Regions from separate parts of the Homo sapiens genome. Here regions 1, 3 and 4 are each linked to region 2. Evidence: fine-mapped expression QTL. A gene starts in region 2. Each other region holds a variant in brackets. All regions are shown on one strand. Distances are between the middles of the regions.

Region 1 (5,155 bases), 110 kb after region 2:
CAAAGTGAGACTCTGTCTCAAAAAAAAAAAAAAAAAAAAAAATTAGCTGGGCATAATGGCATGCACCTGTATTCCCAGCTTCTCAGGAGGCTGAAGCAGGAGAAGTGCTTCAGCCCAGGAGGCAGAGGTTGCAGTGAGCAGAGATCAAGCTACTGCACTCCAGCCTGGGCAACAGAACAAGACCCTTTCTCAAAAAACAAACAAACAAAACCAAAAACAAGAATGAAGGAGAAAAGACGATACAGAAATCATGTGTGCTTACTTGTCTGGCCCCAAAAATACTACTGAAATAGAAGAGGTTTCTGTCATGATTTGAATAAAACTCTTGACATCATGCACCACTGTCCTAGGATGCTATTTTTCAGGGACTCAGAACCCATAATGCTGAGGCCAGATTCATTTGCATCTTCTGACCACAGAAGATGATCCCACCACCAAGATAACCAAGTACATGAGACATACATGATGTAAGAACAAAGGGAAAGACAGAACAAGGAAACAGCCAACACTGGCTTAGAACAACTCAGCACATGACAGCAGACAGGAAACAATATTACAAAAAGAATTTCTGTTTTTTGAGACGGAGTCTTGCTCTGTTGCTCAGGCTGGAGCGCAGTGGCACAATCTCAGCTCACTGCAACCCCTGCCTCCTGGGTTCAAGCTATCCTCCCACCTTAGCCTCCCAAGTAGCCAGGATTAAAAGCGTGTGCCACCACACCTGGCTAATTTTTATATTTTCAGTAGAGATGGGGTTTCACCATGTCGGCCAGGCTGTTCTCGAACTCCTGGCCTCAAGTAATCCACCTACCTTGGCCTCCCTGAGTGCAGAAATTATAGGCATGAGCCACTGCACCAGACCTATGAAGAGAATTTCTAAGGACGGTATTACAAGAACAGTCTATAGTCTATGTAGGCAGTGACAATGTCAATGAAGACAATTCCTGGCACAGGGAGGCATGAAGAAATAACAGGTAGAGGAATGAATTAGATCCCGAACCTGAAATCTGGATGAAATCACACAAACATCCACAGGACAAACAAGGTAGCCTGCATTAAGTTGCCTGTAAGACTTCTGACTCTGAATTCTTCCCTGGGAGCTCAATAGCAGGTGTTGGGGCTGCTCCAAGAATGGAGAGGGCAGTATGCATACCTCAGTCCTACCAACCAAGAACTGAAGTAGGAAGCTGTGTCCATGCTCCTGACATGAGAAAGTCTTGCCAATAGAAAAAGAGGGGGAAAGACAGAGACTAGCTCAGGTCACAGGGGTGAGTGTGGGCAACTTACCCAGGGAGGACATAAGTGCCAGGTTCTCCAGCGTCACATCACGGTACAGGCATCTCTGAGCCTCACTAAGGAGATTCCATTCCTCCTGGGTAAATTTCACAGCCACGTCTTCAAAAGTCACTGTGCCCTGTTATGATGTTGACAGATGAAACCACAAACCACCCCTATGCTGAGGTATCACAATCCATCTCTCCCACACATCTACTCTCGCACATCCTCCTCTCAAGGTCCTCAAACATAGGAGAAACTAGGCCCACTGGTCATGGGGTACAGCCACCAACAACAATAGTTAGTTGAACAAATAGGTATCTGTGCGGTGGCTGTGATATAAGAGTCCACCCCCTCCTGACAGGCACTTCCCCTAGTATGGCCGAGGTCATGGAAAGCCCAATGTGGCACCTTCAGCACAGCAGAGATACCCTCTCTGAACGCACCTCATTCTTTTTTTTTTTTTTTTTTTTTTTTTTTTGATACGGAGTCTCGCTCTGTCACCCAGGGTGGAGTGCAATGGCGCGATCTCGGCTCACGCAACCTCCGCCTCCCGGGTTCAAGCGAGTCTGCTGCCTCAGTTTCCCAAGTAGCTGGGATTACAGGCATGCGCCACCACGCCTGGCTAATTTTGTATTTTTAGTAGAGACAGGGTTTCTCCATGGTTGGTCAGGCTGGTCTCTACCTCCGGACCAACCCGCCTAGGCCTCCCAAAGTGCTGGGATTACAGGAGTGAGCCACTGCACCCGGCCCCACCCTCCACTTTCTTGTATGCGTTCCTTAAATGCTTCTACAGCCATAAAGGCCTGAGGGAAGAGGCTGACTTTACAGGACTGTGTCCCTGATAGGATCTGGTAAGCTCAGGCCTCCCTGAACGCTTTTGTGTCCACGGAGCCAGGTGACCTTGGACTATTGTCTAACCTGCGTGTCTCAGCACAAAGTGTCATCTCTACCACCTATATGATCTACAAGGATTCAATCTCAAAGGGCCCCAACGTCATCCCCTCTCTACTCTGTTATTTATTTGGCCTTTAGGAAACTTTAAAAGCCTGGACTTTGATCCAGTCCCTTCTTTCTTGGAAATTCTCCTATTTCTAGTGTCCTCGCAATGATTTCACAGCCCCCAGCCTCCTTGCTTTTCCAGGAGGAGTTCCGCCTCACAGGTTGTTCCCTACAGGCGCCTGTGGACCCCAGGTTCCATCCTCCCGGATCCGTCCATCTCCAGGCCATTGCCCGCGCCCCTCCCTGTACCTGTCGCTCTCCCCACCGCATCCCACGGGTGTCTGAAACAGGGATCCCTCCCGAGAGCGCCTCAGTGTCCCGACGCCGGGTCCGGGTTGCAGAGCCGTAAACAGGTGCCGCTCCCTCGCTGCTTTAGGACTTGTGTGACTAGGAGGTGACCGGAGAGCACGGAAGGCGCCACAATTACCTGAACGGGGAACCTTAGCGCGGCCGCCGCCATGGGACCACGTGGGGTAAGCTGGGTTGAGAGCAGCGGG[C/T]GCCGTTAAAGAGCTGCAGAGTCACGTCTGTGCAAAGAGAAGAACGACTCTCGACCTCCTGGATCCAGTCACCACCACGGTCCCAACACAGCGCTCCAAGGACTCCCTAACGCCAATGGAAATGGTCGCTACTAAAGGGCGCCGGGAGTCCCGCCTCTACCTTACTTGCGCACACGGAAACGCCTTCAATGTGAACTCTCACTGGCTCTGCCGTGCTGTCATTTGACGCAGAGCTTTCTGGGTAATGTAGTTTCCCAGGTTCCAAGGCCGTAAAGAGAGAGATTCCCAGGGGCGCTTCGGAAGGAAAAGCCCAGCTCCACCTCCGGGGCCCTCAGGGAAGCCTCCTGACCCGCACGGTGGCGCGCGCCTGTAATCCCAAATTTTGAGAGGCTGAGGTGTCAGGACTGCTTGAGCCCAGGTGGTCCAGGCTGCACTGAGCTATGACTGCACCACTGCACTCCAGCCTGGGCGACAGAACCTGTCTCAAAAGAAAAAGAAATGTTAATTAAGCGTTTGTGCTGTTAAGGGAGGAGACCACCTCTCATATTGTTTTATGCCCAATTTCTGCCTCCAAAGAAACAAGTAAAAACTAAAAGGCAGAAATGAAATCCACAGGCAGACAGCCAGGTGCCAACCCTGGGCCTGGTTAAAGATCGACCCCTGACCAAACCGGTTATGTTATCTATGGATTCCAGACATTGTATGGAAAAGCATTGTGAAAATCCCTGTCCTGTTCTGTTCCGTTCTGATTACCACTGCATGCAGCCCCCAGTCGTGTACCCCCTGCTTGCTCAATCGATCACAAACCTCTCATGTGGACCCCCTTAGAGTTGTAAGCCCTTAAAAGGGACAGGAATTCCTCACTTGGGGAGCTTGGTAGTTGGAGATGTGAGTCTTGCCAAAGCTCCAGGCTGAATACAGCCCTGCGGCTTGTCCTGCTACATTTCTTGGTTCCCTGACTGGGAAGCCAGGTGATTAACAGATAGTCGAGGCAGCCCCTTAGGCAGCTTAGGCCTGCCCTGTGGAGCATCCCTACAGGGGACTCTGGCCAGCTTGAGGGACGCAGAACCTGAGAGCACTCCCGGGTAGGCAATTGCCCCAGTGGAACACCTCGCCAGAGTGGCGTGTGGCAGGCCCCCACAGAGGATCAATGCAGCGGCTGAACACTGGGAAGGAACAGGCACTTGGAGTCCGGACATCTGAAACTTGGTAAGACTAGTCTTTGGAACTTGCCCACTCCATTTGAGTGGAAGGGTGGCCTGATCACCCACGGCATGCCTGTACCGGCACTTTGGTTTTTGTTTTTGACTTGATTTGGATTGCTTGATACTTTCGTTTTGGTTTTGACCTGGCTTGGATTTCTGGATACTCTGATTTGGATTTTGATTCTGGTTTGGTGTAAACGGTAAAAGTGTATGTGTGCCCTTTTTACCTGTTCTTTGTTTTGTGGTGTGCGTGTGGTGTGAGCGTGGTGTTTTGTCTCAAAGAAGCATGGGTCAGGCACAAAGTAAGCCCACTTCACTAGGAACTATGTTGAAACATTTCAAGAAAGGATTTAAGGGAGATTACAGTGTTACTATGACACCAGGAAAACTTAGAACTTTGTGTGAAATAGACTGGCCAGCATTAGAGGTGGGTTGGTCATCAGAAGGAAGCCTGGACAGGTCCCTTGTTTGAAAGGTATTGTGTCCAGAATTGGTTCCTTCCGGTGGGTTCTTGGTCTCGCTGACTTCAAGAATGAAGCCGCAGACCCTCACGGGCAGTGTTAAAGTTCTTAAAGATGGTATGTCTGGAGTTTGTTCCTTCAGGTGTTCAGATGTGTCTAGAGTTTCTTCCTTCTGGTGGGTTCGTGGTCTCGCTGGCTTCAGGAGTGAAGTGGCAGACCTTCGCGGTGAGTGTTACAGCTCATAAAGGCAGTGCGGGCCCAAAGAGTGAGCAACAGCAAGATTTATTGCGAAGAGCGAAAGAACAAAGTTTCCACAGTGTGGAAGGGGACCTGGGCGGGTTGCTGCTACTGGCTGGCCAGCTTTTATTCCCTTATTTGACCCCACCCACATCCTGCTGATTGGTCCATTTTATACAGCGACAGAGTGAGACTCCACCTCAAAAAAAAAAAAAAAAAAAAAAAGAAGAATCTCATTTTGAAGCCAAAACCATCAGAGTGACCATTCCAATTATGTGCTGAGCATAATTCCATCTCTTAGACATCAGTGCTAACATTTCTCTGAGGCCCTAAGTTTTTTCACCATCTACTGATGTTTCCTCAGAACTACTTCTGTCAGAACTGTTGAATAATTACCTAGTCAGTGTTTTTTGTTTTTTTTTTTCACACAGAGTCTCGCTCTGTCGCCCAGGCTACAGTGCAACGGCTCAATCTTGGCTCA
Region 2 (5,118 bases):
AACACCCTACCTCCATAGCCACTAACCTCCCTTACCTCTGTTTAGAAAGCCCAAGAATATCACCCACTTATCCAACCAAAAGGCTTGGTCCTTAGCCCCCATTCTGCCCTTCCTGGCCAAATAACCTGTACCACCATGCCTAAAGATTAACCCTTGTAGGCCGGATGCGGTGGCTTACGCCTGTAATCCCAGAACTCTGGGTGGCTGAGGCGGGTGGATCACCTGAGGTTGGGAGTTCAAGACTAGCCTGACCAACATGGAGAAACCCTGTCTCTACTAAATAAATACAAAATTAGCCGGGCGTGGTGGCGCATGCCTGTAATCCCAGCTACTCGGGAGGCTGAGGCAGGAGAATTGCTTGAAGCCGGGAGGCGGAGGTTGTGGTGAGCCAAGCTCGCGCCATTGCACTCTGGCCTGGGCAACAAGAGAGACACTCCATCTCAAAAAAAAAAAAAAAAAATAGAACAACCCTTCTAAATGTAATCCACAGCTCACTCACCTTAGTCCACACAATGACCACCACATTTTGGATGTCTCCATTCTGAAGCACTCCCCAGATTTCCAGACCTGGGTGTTCAGCCACCTACTTAATGCCTACTTAATGTCTCTGAAACATCTCAAACTCTTACATGACCAAATAAAGCTCCTGTTGTCTCCAGTGAATATTACTGTTAATACCAACTTCTCCATCTCAGTTGAAGAACCATGGGGTCATCGCTGAATCCTGTTTCACTCCCTCGCTGTCTACATCAGAAAATTTAGTTGCTCCCTTTAAAAATTTGCATCCAGAATGCAACACATCTCCTAATCAATGACTCTGGTCCATTACCCTGGACTGGCTGTAGCTTCCACTCTGATCTTCTTTCCTCTTCCCTCAACCCCACAGTCTGCTCTCCACGCTAACGGGATGGACCCTGTTAGGACTTTGGTAAGATCACCTCCCTCTTGTAACCCAAATCTCTCATTACCTCCAGAATAGGTACCCAACTTCTCAGGCAGCCACTGCAGTCCTGACTCCTTCCCCCTGCTCTTTGTTCCCAGCTAAAAGGAAACAGATCTATGGTTTCCTCAAAAATCTCAGCTTAGTTTTACTAAGCACTTGCGCCTCCTGATACCAGTGCCAGAGATAACCTTTCACAAGTTTCCACTGGCTGACAAAAATGGGAACACCTCAGTATAACCCCTGTAACCTCTGGCATGGACTTAAGAGCCCTGGGCTTGGAATTTCTCCAGGGCACCAGACCCAGGATTGGGGTAACAGCACTTAAGAATACTAGGAAACCACAATCCCAAGAACATGGGGGTAGAGGCTACTGAGGGACCGAACACTCTCCACTTCCCTATGTGAGTTCCATACGCCCTTCTACAACTGGGAGAACCAGGGAAAGAGGAATGCATCCCTGGTGAGGCTAGATGAGCTCAAGCCTCCCTGTAGCCCTGCCTGGCCCTGAACTCAGGCTGGCTGTTTTACTTTCTGGTCTCAGTGCTGTCACCTCTTGCCAACTGTAGGGCAATGAAAAAAAGATGTAGCCTCCCACTATCTCAATGTCCTCATCGCCCCATCGCTGCTCTTCCTGTGAACAGTCTTTGGAAAAGTTTTTAAACCCTAACATAGGGCGGGCACGGTGGCTCACGCCTGTAATCCCAGCACTTTGGGAGGCCGAGGCAGGAGGATCACTTGTCAGGAGTTCCAGACCAGTCTGGCCAAAATGGTGAAATCCCGTCTCTACTAAAAATACAAAAAATTAGCCGGACGTTGTAATCCCAGCTGCAGGCTTGTAATCCCAGCTGCTGGGGAGGCTGAGGCAGGAGAATCGCTTGAACCCGGGAGTCGGAGGTTGCAGTGACCCGAGATCGCGTCATTGCACTCCAGCCTGGGCGATAAGAGCGAAACTCCGTCTCAAAGAAAAAAAAACTAACATAAATGGCGTCCCTCCTTTGTTCAGAACTCTCCGTGGCTTCTAGCATCCTCACAATGACAGTACAACCCTAGGAGTAACTCCGCCTCATATTCTTCGTTCCCTGCAGAAAACAGCTTTCCGAATTCTCCTGGCTCAGTCGCGCCTCAACCTTTGCACGCGCCGGTTCCTCCGCCTGTCACGCTCTCCCACACCTCGTCACACGCAGTGTCAAAAAAAGGGCCCCACCCACGAACGCCTCAGTGTCCCCGACCCTGGGCAGCGGGGACTCGAGCAGGCGCCCCTCACTGATGGCTTTAGAACGTGGGTGGGGGAAGGTGTGTGAGGACGGGAAGACGCCGCACTCACCTGAGTTGGCGTCCTCAGAGTGGCCGCTGCCATCAGACTCTGCGGGTAGAGCTGGGCCGGGAGCGACGGGCGACATTGGTAGGGACCCGGGGACAGCGGTCCCTATCCCAGGCCTGACGTGGGTCCCCCAGGGCGGCGTCGCCAAGGCTTAGACGCTTTCGTGCAGGAGGGACGACGACTCCCCTCACGCCTTCGTGGCCCCAACTCGGCGCTCTGCTATCTCTGATCCGGTGAACACACCTCAGAGAAGCTAAAATGGCCGCCACGAAGAGGCCCCCCCAAAAGTCCCGTCCTTTCTTTTTGTGACTCTCAAGGAAAGTCGGTTTTCTGAGCTCTTACTGGCTTAGTAGCGTGGCGTTCAACGCAGAGCATTCTAGGTAATGTAGTTTTCATAGATCCCGAGGTGGGTGCCGGGGACCCTTTGCACCAACCTCTTGGAGTAAAAGCGAAGCTCCAGGGCGCTGGGCGATGAGAAATGGCTTATCCAAGTCCTAGGGCAGTGGAGGGACTTCGCCCTTTCTTAAATGGGTCGTAATCAGACAGCATATTAGAGGTGCCATCTGCAACTGATCACCCAAGTGTTTGGGGAATATTATTTCAAACTTCATAAAGTTCAGCAGGCTCCCAGAGGCTAAAATTATTATCAGACGCTCCCTAAGGCTGCCAATCCAAATATGTACATCATTCCATAGAGCCATTCAGACACGAAATATATCCACTAGTAGGGAAGCTAATAAACATTACCATATAAGTTTATTCCTTTTTTTTTTTTTTTAAGACAAAGTTTCCCTCTGTCCCCCAGGCTGGAGTGCAGCGGCGCCATCTGGGATCACTGCAACCTCCGCCTCCCGGGTTAATCGATTCTCGTGCCTCAACCTTCCAAGTAGCTGGGACTATAGGCGCGCGCCACCACGCCAGGCTAATTTTTTGTATTTTCAGTAGAGACAGGGTTTCACTATGGTGGTCCCAAATTCCTGGCCCCAGGTGATCTGCCCGCCTCGGCCTCTCAAAGTGCTGGGATTACAGGCGTAAGCCACCGTACCCAGCCTCTATCATATTACATTTCAAATGTATGCACTCCGAAGCATTGAAGTCAGTCTGTGCACTTTTGGTCAGGGACAGGTGAAAAACTACTTCAGATAGTGGCATGATAGTGCTTCTAGAAGATAGAAGAGAAATGTTAGATCACCTTGAAACAGTAGTACAAAGGTAGAATTCTGTCTGATTCCAACAGAAAACATCTTTTGCCTGCATAGTCAATTATTGTGTCCAATTACTGTGTCCAGTCAATAACTGTGTCCAATTCACTGAGCAACGCTTTTATCCATTTCATAATTCTTACTTGATATCTGAGATATATTCCTTCTAGAAGTCTAACATCAATCTCAAAAAACAATGAAAGAAATGCTACTTTGATAAGAGACAAAGGGGAGAGGTGGGACTTCTTAATCAGAAAGCCGGTGAAATGCACTTGAAGGAAGTGAGAAATGAGCCATGTGGGTATTTTTAGAATAAATTCCAGGCAGAAGAAGCAGGTTACTAGAGTGCCTGGATGGATGGAGACTTCACAGGGCATTTCAGCATTGGAGGGCCTAGGGCTCCAACCCAGCAGGCCTTCATCTGCTTTGCTGGCTGCAGAGACACTCAGGGTATATAGGTGAGAAATCTCTTCTTTTTTTTTTTTCTTTTTTTTTGAGATGGAGTTTCACTCTTATTGCCCAGGCTGGAGTGCAATGACGCAGTCTTGTTTCACTGCAACCTCTCCACCTCCTGGGTTCAAGCGATTATCTTGCCTCAGCCTCCCAAGTAGCTGGGACTACAGGCGCACGCCATGACACCCAGCTAATTTTTGTATTTTTAGAAGAGACGGGGTTTCACCATGTTGGCCAGGCTGGTCTCGAACCACTGACCTCAGGTGATCCACGCATCTCGGCTTCCCAAAGTGCTGGGATTACAGGCATGAGCCACCGAGCCTGGCCGAGAAATCTCTGCTGCTTTGTTATAAAGTTTTGGAGCCGCAAAATAAATAGCACTCGAATATAAAATTTTCTTTTTAATTCTCAGCAAGGTAATGTACTTTTTTTTTTTTTTTTTTTTTTGAGATGGAATCTTGCTCTGTCACCCAGGTTGGAGTGCAGTGGCGCGATCTCGGCTCACTGCAAGCTCCGCCTCCCAGGTTCACGCCATTCTCCTGCCTCAGCCTCCCGAGTAGCTGGGACTACAGTTGCCCACCACCATGCCTAGCTAATTTTTTGTATTTTTAGTAGAGACAGGGTTTCACCATCTTGGCCAGGCTAGTCTTGAACTCCTGACCTCATGATCCACCCACCTCGGCCTCTCGAGGTGCTGGAATTACAGGCGTGAGCCACTGCGTCCGGCCCCAACATTTATTTTAATGTTCAGATTCTCCCAGATGTTTGGACAGTGGGAACTCATTAAAGCTGTGCTCTCTGCTTTTTTATGTCAATATTATTGATAATTTCATTACTTTCTAATCCAAAAATATTTTCAGGCTCATGTTGTACCCTTGCTATCCCAGCCCCAGAATCAGCCTCTTTTTCAAGGAGCTCTGGTTTTCTTCAATAGATAACAATGCTTGTAAATATTAGTAAGCATTAGCTGTGCTCTTTTCTACTGGTAAATCATTGATTATTAGGTCCTCTTGGAGAGAAAGCAGATACATACACATGCACGCACACATTTTTTTTTTTTTTTTTGAGACAGAGTCTTGCTCTGTCGCCCAGGCTGGAGTGCAGTGGCACGATCTCGGCTCACTGCAAGCTCAGCCTCCGAGGTTCACGCCATTCTCCTGCCTCAGGCTCCTGAGTAGCTGGGACTACGGGCGCCTGCC
Region 3 (5,155 bases), 140 kb after region 2:
TTTATTTTTTTGAGACGGAGTCTAGCTCTGTCGCCAGGCTGGAGTGCAGTCATGCGATCTCAGCTCATTGCAACCTCTGCCTCCAGAGTTCAGGCGATTCTCCTGCCTCAGCCTCCCGAGTAGCTGGGACTACAGGTGTCTGCCACCATGCCCAGCAATTTTTTTAACATGGGTTTTGCTGTGTTAGCCAGGATGGTCTTGATCTCCTGACTTCATGATCTGTCCACCTCGGCCTCCCAAAGTGCTGGGATTACAGGCGTGAGCAACCGTGCCCGGCTAATTTTTTTATTTTTATTAGAGATGGGGTTTCACCATATTGGTCAGGCTGGTCTCGAACTCCTGACCTCATGATCCACCTGACTCAGCCTCCCAAAGTGTTGGGATTATAGGCATGAGCCACTGCACCCAGCAATTTATTTATTTTTTATTTTTTATTTTTTTTGAGACAGAGTCTCACTCCTGTTGCCCAGGCTGGAGTGCAATGGCATGATCTCGACTCATCGCAACCTCCACCTCCAGGGTTCAAGTAATTCTCCTACCTCAGCCTCCCGAGTAGCTGGAATTGGAGGCATGCAGCACCATGCCTGGAAAATTTTGTACTTTCAGTAGAGACACGGTTTCTCCATGTTGGCCAGGCTGGTCTCGAACTCCCGACCTCAGGTGATCCACCTGCCTTGGCCTCCCAAAGTGCTGGGATTACAGGTGTGAGCCACCATGTCTGGCCTTTATTTTTATTTTTTGTGGGTATATAGTAGTGTATATATTTGTAGATTACATTAGATATTTTGATGTAGCCATGCCATATGTGATAATCACATAGGGTAAATGGGGTCTCAGTCACCTCAACATTTATCCTCTGTATTATAAACAGTCCAGTTATACTCTTTTAGTTATTTTTAAATATATAATTAAATTATTTTGACTATAGCCACCCTGTTATGGTAGCAAATATTAGGTCTTATTCATTTTTGCTCACTGTTTTTTGTACCCATCCTGTCATCATGTCTTATGGAGAATTTTCTTTTGTTCCCAACAAAACAATGAAACTCGCAAAACTGACTGTAATGATTCAGTCTACGTGAATTTAAAGAGCAATCAATACTTAATGTTCTCAGCTCTGAGTGCACACATTGTAAGTCTGAATGATGCCAATGATATGGCCACTTAGATAAGTAAAGTTTGGGAGCATCTCAAATAGTATTTTTATTCTCTGGGTGCAGGATGAGCTTCCTAGAGTCTGATGTGATACCTATTTGATGCTTTTACAAAGAATCAATAATCTTCCTCCTTTGAGGTGTGAGCAGGGCTTTCCAGCAGCCCTCAGAATGTAACATGGTCTGCATTCGGTTTGCTCTTGGAGGATACCACCATTGTTGGCTGAGAGCTCTGGGAAGTACTTTACCCAGAAGGCGCTAGTTGCAAGGCCCAGGATGAGGGATTTCTGGGCATGCTTGTCAGGCCAGGGAGTACTGGGTTGGGACTGAGAAGGCACAAGAGGAGTAGTCATCTCTGCTCCCAAGTGGCAGGTCTGAGGCTCATAGGCACTGGCTGGGGTGATGCCTGCTCCACCCACAGTTGATGGCAGCAGCCACACTGAGGGACCTAGCTCAGGTAAATGCTGTGTATTACAGGCTTCACCCCAGCTAGAGTAATACAGGTAGAGGAACCAATAGGTACAAAGGCTTGGAGGTGCATCTGAGCCATGAACATTTCAGAACCTGGTAACCATGTTGTGTCATGGAAAGTGGGGAACTACATTACCCAGAAAGCTCTGCTTTAAACGACAGCCGGTCAGAGCCAGTGAGCACTCGGAAAGAAGGCATTTCCACGTGTGCACGTAACGTAAGGCCGAGACTTCCGGGGTCTCTAGTAGCGGCTGTGTATCGGCGATGCGGGTGTTTCCCCAGTTTGTGGCCCCTGAGTGCTGGGTGGGACCGCGGTGACTGAACCTAGAAGGTGGAGAGGAATCGTCCTCGGTGCCCAGAGGCGGCTCTGCAGCCCCGTGACGGCGACCACTGCTCCCGGGCCGTGCTTCCCCAAGTAGTCCGATGGCAGCGGCTGTGCCGAGGCGCCCAACTCAGGTAATTGTGGTGCCTTCTGTGCCCTCAGGTCACCCCATCGTCACCCAGGTCCTAAACCAGCGAGGGAGCGGCTCCTGCTCGTGGGTCTGTAGCCGGTACCCGGCGTAGGAACACTGAGGCGCTCACAGGAGGCCTCTCCTTGTAACCGTCCAGTGGGTTCACGTTGCCAGCTGCCTAGACAGAGCCGATTTATGAAGACTGGGGAATTGCGATGGAGAAATAGTAATTCACGCAGAGCCGTCCTGCTGTTCGGGAGACAGGAGTTTTATTATTCAAATCAGTCTCCCTGAGCATTCTGGGATCAGAGTTTTCAAAATTTGGCGGGTAGGGGCTTGGGAAGTGGGGAGTGCTGATCAGTCTGGTTGGAGATGGATTCATAGGGGGTTAAAGTGAGTTTTTCATGCTGTTTTCTGTTCTGGGTGGGATGGCAGAACTGATTGACCCAGATTACCGGTCTGTGTGTTGTCCGCTGATCCATCCAGTGCAGGATCTGCAAAATGCCCCAAGCACTGATCTTAGATATTGGGGAAACCAGCCCCACACCACCCAGCAGATACCCCGAGTCCTGCGGAGACAAAGGAGTTAGAAAGAGACAGAATACGCATTTAAAAGGCGGGTCCAGGTGGCCAGAGCATTGGAGGCTTCCTGGCGGCCCAGAGCTCTTGGGCTCCACCCAGTTTATTGGTTTACAAGCTCTTTGTTCTTATGGCTGATTGGAGGGGGAGGAAGCGATCAGGAAAAGGATTAATCAGTAAAGGAGAACTCGTGAGTCATTCCATAAGATGTAAAGCACTGGCCGTTTCTGTGAATTTCCTTGAACAAAGGCGTGTGTCTAAACTACTTAAGATCTTTAACTTAACTGAAACGGGTGGCTGCGGGTTTCAGGAGGAGCCAAGATGTTTGATTATGCTCCACTGCTTCAAGGGAGTGTGATCTCCCTGAGCAACCCA[T/C]GGAATGCTGCTGAAGAGTTATGCTCTCGGGGCATAAAGACATGAAGGCAATAAGGAGACTTTTCTCCTCAGAGGCCGCCCATGGCTTCCCATGGGTGTCTCACACAGGGGAGACCAACTCAACTAGCACCCCAGAAACTCACATTAGGTTTTACAATAGTAAGGTTATCTTCAGGAGCAACTTGGGGAGGTTCAGACTCTTGGAGCCAGAAGCTGCATGACCCCTAAACCGTAATTTCTATTCTTGTAGCTAATTTGTTAGTCCTGCAAAGACAGGCTGGTCCCCAGGCAAGAAAGGGGTCTTTTCAGGAAAGGGCTATTATCAATTTTGTTTCAGAGTGAAACCATGAACTGAATTCTTTTCCAAAGTTAATTCAGCCTATGCCCAGGAATGAAAAAAGACGGCTGAAAGGTTGGAAGCAAGATGGAGTCGGTTAGGTCTGATTTCTTTCACTGTCATAATTTCGTCAGTTATAATTTTGCAAAGTCGGTTTCACCTGTTTCTGACACCAGTGGGATGCAGTGGGGAGAGTGACAGGCACAGGTAGGGGTGCAGGCAATGGCCTGCAGATGGACAGAGCTGGAAGGATGGAACCTGGGGTTCACAGGCATCTGTCAGGAACAACGTGTGAGATGGAGCTCTTCCTGGTAGAGCAAGCAGGCCAGGGGCTGTGCATTCATCATGAGGATTCTAGAAGCCATGGAGAGTTTTGAAGAAAGGAGGGACATGATCCAAATCCAGGCTTTTAAGAAGTTTCCCAAAGGCCAATCAAAGGAAGAACATCATAGAGAGAGAGGATGAGGACTTTGGGGCCTTGGGAGGTTGAATCCGTTTTGTAGATCACATAGATGGTAGAGATGACATTTTGCACTGAGAAAAGCAGGTCAGACAACCAGCCTTAGGGTTACCTGGTTCCAGGGACAAGAAAGGGTTCAGGGAGTCCTGAGCTTATCAAATCCTGTGACATGTTTGTAATGTCTGCCTTTCCCCTCAGGCACTCCTGGCTGCAGAAGCACTTAGGGAACCCACACAGGGAAGTGGAGGGTGTTCCATTCCCTCATTGGTCCTGACGCCATCTACAGGTTCTCTAGCTTGTGGTGTCCTGGGACTCTTAAGTGCCATTTTTTTCAGTCCTTTGATCCGAGGACCCTGGAGAATCTCTGAAGCCAGGATACCAAGTCCATGACAGGTTATATGGAGGTATTCCCATTTCTGTCAACCAATGTAAACACCCTTGTAAGATTAACCCAGGATTTGCTACCAGGTTGTGAAATGCTTAGAGATAAAACGGATCAAAGTCAGGAGGTGATATTACCACAGTTCTACCTGGCTACAGGCTTCATCTGGCTGGACCTTGTTGCATAGACTGTGGGTTGAGGGAAGAGGAAGAAAGGTCAGAGATAAGGCTCCTGCCATAATCCAGGTGAGGGTTAATGGATCAGATAAGTGGTAAATCACATGGGTCTGGATTCAGGATTCACTTTTTGTAAAGAGACAGCTAGGTTTTCTTTTTTTTTTCTTAACGTGGAATTTCAGTCTTGTTGCCCAGGCTGGAGTGCAATGGCGCAATCTTGGGCTCACTGGAGCCTCTGCCTCCCAGGTTCAAGCAATTCTCCTGCCTCAGCATTCAAGGTAGCTGGCATTACAGGCACCCACCATCATGCCCAGCTAATTTTTGTATTTTTAGTAGAGACGAGGTTTTACCATGTTGGCCAGGCTGGTCTCGAACTCCTGACCTCAAGTGATCGTCACATCTCGGCCTCCCAAAGTGCTGGGATTATAGGCATGGACCAATGCGCCCAGCCGAGACAGCTAGGCTTTTTTTTTTTTTTTTTTTTTTTTTTTTTTGAGACGGAGTTTCACTCTCTTGTCCAGCCTGGAGTCTAGTGGCACAATCTCAGCCCACTGCAACCTTCACCTCCTGGGCTCAAGTGATTCTCCTGCCTCAGCCTCCTGAGTAGCTGGGATTACAGGCATGTACCACCACACTCGGCTAATTTTTCTATTTTTAGTAAAGTCGGGGTTTCACCATGTTGGCCAGGCTAGTCTCAAACTCCTGACCTCAGGAGATTCGCTGGCCTCTGCCTCCCCAAGTGCTGGGATTATAGGCACGAGCCACCATG
Region 4 (5,155 bases), 40 kb before region 2:
GGAAGCTGGCAGGGGACCCCAGTCTTTGCGTTCATAAAGACATTTAGAACCGGATGAATGTTGTTCCTTTTTTGAAGTTGTTATTAAAGTAGGTGCAACAACCAAAAATCAATAAATAATAAATAAATTGACTAAATATTTTTTCTCAAAAAAAAAAAAAAAAGAAAAGAAAGTCACCAGGTGTGGTGGCTCACGCCTGTAATCCCAGCACCTGGGGAGGCTGAGGTGGGCGGATCACCTGAGATCAGGAGTTTGAGACTATCCTGGCCAACATGGTGAAACCCCGTCTCTACTAAAATACAAAAATTAGCCGGGTGTGGTGGCGCATGCCTTTAATCACAGCTACTCTGGGTGCGGAAGTTGCAGTGAGCCAAGATCGTGCCACTGCACTCCAGCCTGGGCGACAGAGCAAGACTTTGTCTCGAAAAAAATAGAAAGTTAACAGTTTTGTTTATTTTCCTACCAGGTTTTTATTATTATTATTATTATTCTAATTGAAATCACTGTTTCCTACATACTGAGGCGGATTGGCTTTGTCTTCTTGGAAACAAAGGTTATTTTCCTCACTCACACTGGAGCGGGGATACTCACCAGACACAAGTTGAGATGATGCTGGATGTAAACGGGTCATCTATTTTTACCAAAGGCAGCACTACCTGCCTTCCCAATTGATCAGAAAAGCATTTGATAGTTGTCTTTGTAATATCCTTATTTGATTAAATTACTATGTGGATTTCACATTTATTTTTATTGTTTTGTGCCTGTTTATTCTATGCCTAAGTTGGGGTATCACCAGGTCATTTCCTCCACCATCTGTGTTTCCCCAAGGATAAATCCTCCTGCTCATGCCCTTCACTCCTCCATTAGCCCATTCCCTAGAAAGCTGCTGGTTTTACACAGTGGCTGTGTGTCTTTGCCTTCTTAATGTAGCATTCAGAGTCCCACTCTGGAGCCAGGTATCAAATCCTAGCCCAGCCACTTACAGGCTATGTAGCACTGGCCAAGGTACTGAACTTCTCTGTGCCTCTGTTATTTTGATGTTAAAATGGAGTTATTTAGGATCTACTTTACAGGACTGTTGTGATGGAAATGGGTTAACATACAGAAAGCACTGAGAACAGAGTCAAATATGCCCTGACTGCTTAAAGGTTAGTTATTATGATCCCTGATGCTATTACTACTCTTACTGATATCATCGTGCCTCAGGTCTAACTGCTCCCAGAGTTACACACCAGCATGTCCAACAGCTGGCTGTATATCTGAACTCAAAAATCCAATAACCTCCTCCAAACAGAAATTGCCAGCTTTTCCCCAAACCTTTTCCTTACAGCTCCTTACAGAGCTCAAGGAACTCCTTGAGACTGCAGAAGCAGACAGGAAATGCTTTCAACCCACCACAAATTAACAACTGGCCTCCAGTGGTACTCACATTGTCTACATTTTTCATTGTTTTTTTTTTGTTTGTTTTTTGTTTGTTTGTTTGTTTGTTTTTGAGACAGAGTCTCACTCTGTCGCCCAGGCTGGAGAGCAGTGGTGCGATCTTGGCTCACTGCAACCTCGGCCTCCCAGGTTCAAGTGATTCTCCTGCCTCAGGCTCCCGAGTACTTGGGATTACAGGTGCCTGCCACCATGCCTGGCTAATTTTTGTATTTTTTTAGTAGAGACGAGGTTTCATCATGTTGGCCAGGCTGGTCTCAAACTCCTGACCTCAGGTGATCCACCCGCCTCGGCCTCCCAAAGTGCTGGGATTACAGGCATGAGCCACTGCGCCCAGCCCATTTTTCATTGTTGTAGCAGAGAAGTATCCCTGCTTCCATCAAGAGCCAATTTTCCTGTCACAGTTGGTTTAATGACATAGTTGGTGACAGGACCTAAACCACCAGTGGAAAATTGGCTCTTGATGGGAGCAGGGATACTTCTCTGTATGGAGTATATGTGGATGAAACTCCTTGGAGAAATGGACTAGTACACAGTCTTATAATGTGAGGATTCAGAACATAATTCCTAATGTGGGGAAGTCAAGCAGACATTTCATCAGTGGAGTACCAGGAGATTCAAACTCTGTACCCAACAGTGATAGGGGGACAATCTAAGCCCCAAGAGGCTGCATGCCTGATGGAGCAGATGAAACACATGGCTGTAATTAGCTCCCACCCCTTCGATA[C/T]GTTCTCAACTCCACCAAAGCCTCAGCCTGTATGAGGGTGGAAAGTGGGGAGGGAGAGTGCAGGGAAGAAGGCACAGCTTCCACCACACTAGGTGACCAGGCGCTTCTCACCATTTTAACTCCTCCATCTCTCTCAAGCCTCATGTTAAGTCTATCAAACATCATATGCTTTCTCAATATAAAATATGCACCAATTTCTCCCTTTCCACTGATATAATCCTAGTCTCAACCCCTGTCATCTTTTTGATGGATTAGGAATGCCTTCTCTGGGTCCCGGGCCCCCTCTGTTTCACCAGCCTGGAATTGGCACAGGAGTCACAGCATTAGCCTTGCCCTCTGCCACCCTTGTAATTCATAAATCTCTGAAAACTTAAAAGTTTGAGCAAAAGTTTGTCATGTTTCTATGAGTAATTTATAATAAAACTTGATCAGAATTTGTGAGACTAACGTTTGTCTTTATATTTTCCTTTTTTTTTTTTTTTTTTTTGAGACACAGTCTCGCTCTGTCGTCCAGGCTGGAGTGCCGTGGCGTAATCTCGGCTCACTGCAACCTCTGCCTCCTGGATTCAAACAATTCTTCTGCCTCAGCCTCCTGAGTAGCTGGGATTACAGGTGCATGCTACCACGCCCAGATAATTTTTGTATTTTTAATAGAAACCGGGTTTAACCATGTTGGTCAGGCTGGTCTCAAACTCCTGACCTCATGATCCACCTGCCTCGGCCTCCCAAAGTGCTGGGATTACAGGCGCGAGCCACCACACCCAGCCTGTCTTTATATTTTCATTTAATGTGGACCTTGTTACATTTTACCGCAGATTTTGTATTTTTGTGTGTGTTTGTTTGTTTGTTGGTTTTTGAGACAGTCTACCTCTGTCGCCCAGGCTGCAGTGCAGTGGCACAATTTCAGCTCACTGCAACCTCCGCCTCTGTGGTTCAAACAATTCTTCTGCTCAGCCTCCTGAATAGCTGGGACTACAGGCACGCGCCACTACGCCTGGCTAATTTTTGCATTTTTAGTAGAGATGGGGTTTCACCATATTGGCCAGGCTGGTCTCGAACTCTTGACCTCGTGATCCGCCCACCTCGGCCTCCAAAAGTGCTGGGATTACAGGCATGGTTTTTTTTTTGTTCGTTTTGTTTTGTTTTTTTTTTAGAGACTTGGTCTCCTTCCATTTCCCAGGCCAGAGTTCAGTAGGGCGGTCATAATCCACTGTAGCCATGAACTCCCTGGCTCAAACAAGCTACACAGACATGCCACCATGCCTGGCTAACATTTTTAACATTATTTTTGGTAGAGACAGGGTCTTGCTTTGTTGCTCAGGCTAGGGATTCACAGAGTCTTGCTCTGTCTCCCAGGCTGGAATGCAGTGGCGCAATCTTGGCTCACTCTAGCCTCTGCCTCCCAGGTTCAAGTAATTCTCCTGCCTCAGCCTCCCAAGTAGCTGGGATTACAGGTGCCCACCACCATGCCCGGCTAATTTTTGTATTTTTAGTAGAGAAAGGGTTTCACCATGTTGGCCAGGCTGGTCTTGAACTCCTGATCTCAGGTGATCTGCCTGCCTCAGCCTCCCAAAGTGCTGAGATTACAGGTGTGAGCCACTGCACCTAGCCTGCAGAAATATTAATGTGTTTGTTTATGACCTGTTGACCCAGGACCAGTGATGGTATAGAACACTGTATTAGAGACATGGAGCTGGGGCTGGATGAAGATTCCATCAGTAATTCAATCAACAGACAAGTGTTATCCAATCACGTCTTTAAATCAATCACTGACATGGAGCTGGGGCTGGATGAAGATTCCATCAGTAATTCAATCAACAGACAAGTGTTATCCAATCACGTCTTTAAATCAATCACTGATCCCAGCCCCTATAAAAGGGAGCAGCCTTAGGAGGCACATCAGATAAACCCAGTGTGGAAAGCTAGTCACACATCAGCTCAGTGTTCGGCCCGGGATTACCCAGTCAACCAAGGAGGTAAGCTTCCATAATGGAAGGAAAATTTTGTGCCTTTGAGTGTGTATACATTTTGTGTCTTTGAGTGTGTATACATAATTTTGTGTCTTTGAGTGTGTATACATGTGTATGTAGGCATAGCTATTTCAGGAAAATTCCTAACTACAGAGATATGGGGGTCTCCCAGGTGTAGGGAATGGTCTTTTGTTACAACAGCTCTGACCCAAAAGGGCTTGATGTTGTGAACTCTGTATAAAGGCCTGGTGTGACTGAAGATTTTTCTTCAAAAAGTCTATCGTATGACTTTATGTTCTAGTAATTCTTTTTTTTTTTTCGAGACAAGATCTCTATCACCCAGGCTAAAGTTTAGTAGCCCCAATCACAGCTCACTGCAGCTTCAGCCTCCCCAGGCTCAAGTGATCCTTCCACCTTAGCTTCCTGAGCAGCTGGGACCACAGGCGCACACCACCACACCAGGTTAATTTTTCTATTTTTTGTAGAGGCAGGATTTTGCCATGTTGCCCAGTGTGGTCTCAAACTCCTGGCCTCCAGTGATTTGCCCACTTTCAGCCTCCAAAAGTGCTGGGATTACAGATGTGAGCCACTGTGCCCAGCTTAGTAATTCCTTTGTATTGCATTATATGAAATATGTAGCTGGGTGTCATTAGAGATCATAAAGCCCAGGATACAGACCCAGACCTGACGGGTAGCATGCCTGCGTCACAGTTTGTAATTGCCAGACTCCAGATTAGAGCTCCGGTAGCCTTGTTTTGAATTCCCAGGTTCTGGGAAATAAGCCATAATACTTTGCAGTCTTGTCTATGTGGGACGGAGTGCATGTCTCCAAGTGTGAACATGTGGTCTGTGTGTCATAGGGGAGAAAGGGTGGGTAATCCAAAAAGAGAACTTGGAGGGAAGTGAAATGAAGGGGAAGCCATGGGTTCCACAGGAAAAAAAAAAAAAAAGAGAGAGAGAGAGACCAATGTCCCTGGATATAGAGAACCAGCCACAACACCTAAGATGGAGCTTGAGAAGT

Evidence for each region. PIP is the estimated chance that this variant, and not a neighbour inherited with it, causes the effect.
Region 1: its variant is fine-mapped to the expression of ZNF154 in whole blood (TOPMed, PIP above 0.99).
Region 3: its variant is fine-mapped to the expression of ZNF154 in whole blood (TOPMed, PIP above 0.99).
Region 4: its variant is fine-mapped to the expression of ZNF154 in T cells (TOPMed, PIP 0.92).

What each region holds. Positions count from the first base shown.
Region 1 is chr19:57,812,010-57,817,164 of GRCh38, forward strand. It overlaps ZNF552 (zinc finger protein 552), which reads right to left and starts at 2,904. Exons shown (of 3, transcript NM_024762.3): 1 at 2,702-2,904; 2 at 1,285-1,411. The coding sequence starts at 2,734. RefSeq lists enhancers at 1-171, 3,179-3,228. The variant C/T (reference allele first, on the strand shown) is at 2,772.
Region 2 is chr19:57,706,672-57,711,789 of GRCh38, forward strand. It overlaps ZNF154 (zinc finger protein 154), which reads right to left and starts at 2,533. Exons shown (of 3, transcript NM_001085384.3): 1 at 2,268-2,533. The coding sequence starts at 2,300. RefSeq lists enhancers at 2,121-2,760, 2,504-2,633, 2,654-2,713.
Region 3 is chr19:57,847,991-57,853,145 of GRCh38, forward strand. It overlaps ZNF587 (zinc finger protein 587), which reads left to right and starts at 1,869. Exons shown (of 3, transcript NM_032828.4): 1 at 1,869-2,081. The coding sequence starts at 2,049. LOC124904782 (a long non-coding RNA gene) reads right to left here. Exons shown (of 2, transcript XR_007067358.1): 2 at 2,325-2,571. RefSeq lists enhancers at 1,467-1,576, 1,647-1,706, 1,877-2,116, 2,167-2,256, 2,311-3,510. The variant T/C (reference allele first, on the strand shown) is at 3,032.
Region 4 is chr19:57,666,428-57,671,582 of GRCh38, forward strand. ZSCAN4 (zinc finger and SCAN domain containing 4) reads left to right here and starts at 2,508. Exons shown (of 5, transcript NM_152677.4): 1 at 2,508-2,776; 2 at 3,818-4,140. The variant C/T (reference allele first, on the strand shown) is at 2,165.